Linked DNA regions of Homo sapiens: region 2 is linked to region 1. A link means that fine-mapping ties the variant in region 1 to the expression of a gene that starts in the linked region. Tissue or cell type: whole blood. Region 1 holds a variant in brackets; the other region holds the start of a gene. All regions are shown on one strand. Distances are from middle to middle.

Evidence for each region. PIP is the estimated chance that this variant, and not a neighbour inherited with it, causes the effect.
Region 2: ATXN7 starts here. The variant in region 1 is fine-mapped to the expression of ATXN7 in whole blood (INTERVAL, PIP 0.97).

Annotation. Positions count from the first base shown.
Region 1 is chr3:63,951,029-63,953,792 of GRCh38, forward strand. It overlaps ATXN7 (ataxin 7), which reads left to right. Exons shown (of 13, transcript NM_001377405.1): 5 at 1,351-1,455. Among named protein-coding and RNA genes, the nearest start is that of PSMD6-AS2, 52 kb to the right of the region's middle. The variant C/T (reference allele first, on the strand shown) is at 1,288.
Region 2 is chr3:63,862,316-63,864,815 of GRCh38, forward strand. It overlaps ATXN7 (ataxin 7), which reads left to right and starts at 1,552. Exons shown (of 13, transcript NM_001377405.1): 1 at 1,552-1,843. It overlaps THOC7 (THO complex subunit 7), which reads right to left and starts at 1,490. Exons shown (of 8, transcript NM_025075.4): 1 at 1,457-1,490. The coding sequence starts at 1,475. RefSeq lists silencers at 1,209-1,428, 1,759-1,998, 2,009-2,228.

The DNA.
Region 1 (2,764 bases):
GTGAGTCAGTTTTCTCTTCTTTAGAGGGGGGATATAATGATGTCTACCTAGGTAGTTGTGAGGATAAAAATGAAATAATAGCTTGTAGAAACTACTCGGTGCTGCAAGTACATCCCCAAATCGTGCTAGACTCTAGTATATTTCGGATTATAGCTAGCTATCTGTGCAATTCAGTGTAATAGAAACTGTTTAAGAAAATTCAAGCCATAGCCATGTGTAGATACTAGATCAGTAATTTGATATTTTAGAGATTATCCTCACTTGACATCTCCTTAAGGAATTTTCTTCTCCCTTTAAAACCACCAGGATCTCCCCGGCTGGAGAAAGTGTGAAATTAAATCTTCATAGGAAAGAAAGTAGATGCTAATCAGCTTTTTGGATCTTCCCCCTTGTCCTTTAAACTTGGTATTTGATCTACTAAAACTTTTGCTTAAATTGAAGTGTGCTAATTATCCATTCATTGCAGATATTCTAAAGAGTGAATGTAGTGTAAAATGCTGTTTAAAATCCACTGATTTTGAAATACTTAAAAAGTTAGATTCTGGATCTGAACTTTTAGCTCTGTTCCCCAAATTGTTGTTCATAATTAATTGAATGGTTGAGATGTTTTAGTTAACCATATTTACCAGGTATCAAGTTACTTTCAGTTTTCATGTATATGCAGACAGTTTAGTTTTACTTTTGCATTTAATTAAGTTGCTGTCTTACTGTTAAAACAAACAAACAGCTCGTATCCTACCCTATTTTGGTAACCAAACTGATTAATATATGAAATGCTGTTTGTACTAAAGTTCATTCTGCCTTTCTGGTGGCATTAGTATGTAAGCAAAAGGACTAGAGGTTGCTATGACTTGGAAAAAATATATTAAAATAATTTTCTTTATATGACATGCTGGCAAACCAGCAGTTCTATTCCTCTGTCTCTGCTCCCTTTCTTAATTGTTCCATAGAACTCAGGAACCAGAGAGCTGGAATAGAATGCACAGTTAAACAAAAGCATTAGATGGTACAGCTTTGTGAACTAAGCAGTTTACATGGTTGCAGATTCTTTCCCTTAACTCTTGGTAGAGTTCATCTAATGTTGCTTTATTGTGCAAATATATTCATTGTTTGCATTTTAAAAGATTGTTTCACCACATCATAATTATTTTTGGTGCACTTTAACCCTTTTTAAAGTGTGTCTGTAAGCCTGATTTGATTTCTCTGTTTAATAGTGGTGGTGTACCACATCAGTTCATTTGTCCTGGTATACTTTACAATAAGGCAACTCCTTTAGAAAGTAGTTTC[C/T]CAAAATGGTTTTATATCAGTCAGAACCAGATGAGTGAGTGATGCTCTGTTTCTGTGTTGCAGACATGCCAATATTTGGTTTCTGTCCAGCCCATGATGATTTCTACTTGGTGGTGTGTAACGACTGTAATCAGGTTGTCAAACCGCAGGCATTTCAATCACATTATGGTAAGTGCTTAACCATTTAAAAAATTGTTAATAGAAGGTAAAAGGTAAAGCAAGATTAAACTAAGGAACAGTGATGGCATGCATGGGACATAATGTCCCTCCCCCACCAGGAAGTAGGCTTTTTAATTCACTCAGTGGGTTAATAACTATCAGATGTTGGGTATTTTTAAATTTTTATTAAAAGTGATAGGAATTTTTTGACTTTTATTGAAATTAGAGAAAGTATAGTTTATAAAATGTCTCTTAAAATGTTGCATCAGTATAATTACAAGTTTGTTTCCTTCTGGAGCCCCTGGTTGTGAATTCAGTGGATTTTAAAATTATATACACTCACAATATGGATGCATGGGCCTTTTTTTTTTTTTTTTTTTTTTTTTTTTTTTAAGGAAATGTGATTTTGAAACTTCTCTGTTCAATAGTTCTAAATATTGGGTGTTAATTGTTGAAGAATCCAAATACAGTTAGTTGGCATTGTCATAATGCCTTTAAAGTGTTTAAGATTCTGATTCTAAAACTTGGTTTTCTGCCCAGTTTGGCTCAATAGCAAATCATAAGTATTTGAATACGTACCTTGTTTCAGGCATTGAGTATGTAGTATGATTCTTACCGCCACAGAGTTTACAGTCGAATTGGAGAGGCAGGCAAAACTAACTAGATATACTTTAAAAATAACTATAAGTTTTTTCCTCATTGCTCTTACTACTACAAATGCAAGCTTGCAATAGAGTAACATTGGGGTTCTTCTATAGATAGAGTGTTTAAAGAAAGCATCTTAGGAGGTGACACTGGAGCTGAGTCCTAAGTGATGAGAAGGAGCAACTCGGGCAGCAATCTAGAATAAGAGCGTTTGATGCAGAGGGAACAGCCAGCACACAGAAGGCCCGTGTGGCTGAAGGGTATTTAGTATTTAGAGAAGGGAGGTAGAAACTGGAGGAATCCAGCATTATAAGCAGGAACCTGATATTCATAGGCCAGGCTAAGAAGCAGCTTGGGAGCACTGGAGGATTTATGTAAGAGAGTAACACAGTCCTATTTCAGTGGTTGATTTGCTGAGAAAAATTTCTGGGAGAAGGACAGAAGTAGGGGGAATAGTTCAGAGGCAAGAGATGACACCGGACTGAGAGTAAGATCTGGCAGTAGAGCTAGGAAGACTGCATAGCTTTGAGATACTTCTTTTTTTTTTTTTTTTGAGACGGCCTCTCTGTCATCCACGTTGGAGTGCAGTGGTGCGATCTCGGCTCACTGCAACCTCCGCCTCCCAGATTCAAGCAATTCCCTTGCTTCAGTCTCCTGAGTAGCTGGGACTACA
Region 2 (2,500 bases), 89 kb before region 1:
GAGGCTTTCTCATTTCCATTGATTGGATAAATAATCTTTGTTACATGTTCCTACAGTTCCCAACCTTGTACTTCCTTGTGGTAATATTTGTCACTCTTAAAACTCATTAGTCAATGTTTCTTTCCCTTCAGACCAAAATTTTGGAGAGGGAAAAGTTCTTGCTTGTTAGTTCTGGGTTGTAATCCCAAAGCCTAGTCCAGGAAGGATAAATATCCACTAAATAAATGAAACTGGAATGAAGCAAAGCTGAAATTCCACATGAAGTTCCTGGGTCTTTAGTAGCCTCCCACCTCCACTACTCTTTATCAGTCTGGAAATTTGGGCCTATCACTGTTCTTCCCATGGCCAGGCCCTTTAATGTGGAGACCCTGGTGGTCTTCAACTCTTAAGAAGTGGCCTCTCCACAGGCATTTACAGTTACCGGTCACCATCTCCTGAAAAACACCCAAGAGCCCTAGATATCCCCTTCCCAGATATCAAAGGACCTCCTTCCTCCCTAACCAGATACCTTGTAGGTTCTCCCTCCAGTTGCCAATCATGCCCCTTCCCCCAAAGTGTCACCTTATTTCCGCTCTCAGTCCATAGACCATCTCCCTTAGACTGTCCACAAACCCAGCCTTTGCCCCTCTAAATTCATCCCAGCTGACAACCACCCTTCCTAACACACACACATACATCTTTTATCGTCCTGATCTACCCTAGACGGTCTCATCACTATACTGGCTCCTCCTTACCCCCGTAAATCTCCCAGGTACACTTCCTGATCACCCTCCGGATACCTCATCCCTATCTATTCCTTTTATAAATAATTCCCTGCTCCTCCTTCTCACCCACAATCCACTCGCAGTTCAAGGCCTCATTGCCATCGACTCCACTGTCTGTGAGTGCTTCCCAATATGCCCCAGGACCCCTCCTGGTGTCACGCTCTGTATCCTGACACCCCTTGTAGACGAGTCCCGAAATTCCCGCCCCGTCCCTGGAGCTCCCACTCCCTCCCAGACCTCCACAAACCTTCCAGGCCCCCAGCCCTAAGCCCGGCACCACTGTCCACCCTTCGCGGCTCCTGGGTCCTCACCGCGCCCCTAGACAAACCCGGACTCCCTCTGGTCCCACCCGCCCTTGCACCGCTTCTAGCCGTCTCGGCCACCCACGTGTGTTCCCAGCCCACCGACCACGCTCCCGGCACACCCTATAGCCCCGCGCTGCCTCCGGGAGAGCGGACGGGGAAAGCCGAGGGTCTCCGAGGGGCGCTCGGGCTCTGGCGAGAGGAGGAAGGACTCAGGGAAGCAGCCGGGGAGGCCCGGGGCTCCGGGGAGAGGTCGGGAAGGCCGAAGCGCTCTGGCGAAGAGGCCGGGGAGGCCGAGGGGTTCCCGGAAGCGGGCCGGGAGGCCAGGGGTCTCAGGGGAGGCCCAGCGGGCCGTGCAGCGGGCGCGTGTGGCGGCGAGCGGGGCCTCACCGTCAGTCACGGCTCCCATGGCGTGCGCGGCGGCGGCGGCGGCGGCGGCGGCGCAAGCTGAGGCGGCGGTTGGCGGCGGCGGAGGTCAAACTCCCACAATGCAGCCGGGTAAACAGCCATGGAGGAGGAGGCGGCGGCGCCCGCGGCCGCCTGCTCCGACGCCTGAGCCGCGCCGCGCCGCGCCGCCGCCGCCGCCGCCGCCGCCGCGGGACCCGCGCTCCCCGCGCTCCCGGTACTCCCCGGGGGCGGCCGCGGCCGGCGCGAGTTGGGGCGAGGCTTGGCGGCCGGCGGCGGCCCCGGCTGCAGCCCGGGCTCCCGCCGCCCCCCTTGCAGCCCCCGCCCGGCCCACGCCCAGAGGCCGCCCCGGAGGCCGCAGCCAGCCGCCAGGTGAGCTCGCCCGGACGCCGCCAGGGCTGCGGGGGTGCGGCGGGAGCTGCGGGCCGCCCGCAGTCGGGGTCCCGGCTTCTTCCCCGGGAAGGTGACTGCGGCCCCGCCGCCCCATCCAGGGTGACGCTGCTAGGGGTGGGCTCGTTTCCCTGGGGGGTGGGGAGGGTGACGGGGACGCCCGGATCCGGCTGAGCCCAGGAGAGGCGGGACTAGGGGTACCGAGGGGGGCGCGTCGCTGGGGGTCCCCGCGAAGTTGGCGCCCACGCGCGCTGGGGCGGGTCTCGAACGCCGGCACTTGCGCGGGGCGCGGCCGGCAATCAAAAAAGGCCCCGGGTTCCAGGTCGCGCGGTTCCGGCCCCTGCGGCCGCCCCCTTCCTTCCTGGGCTCGGCGGGTGCGGGAAAAAGGGTGAAAGAGAAACTTGGCGACCTCCCGGAGGAGTTCGCGAAGCGACCAGGAGCGTGTTGCCATCGTCCTCACCCGGCACCCAATTCCACCACAGAGTCGGGATTTCGTCGGTGATCGTGATGGGGTGCTTTTATTTTTCTCTTTGATTTTCAAAAAATGTCTATGTGACTGTCCCTATCTTAAGGGGAAGTTGAAAGTGGGGGCGGGGGTGCTCAATGAGAAACGTTGCCTTGTGTGTAGTTGTTTGGAGC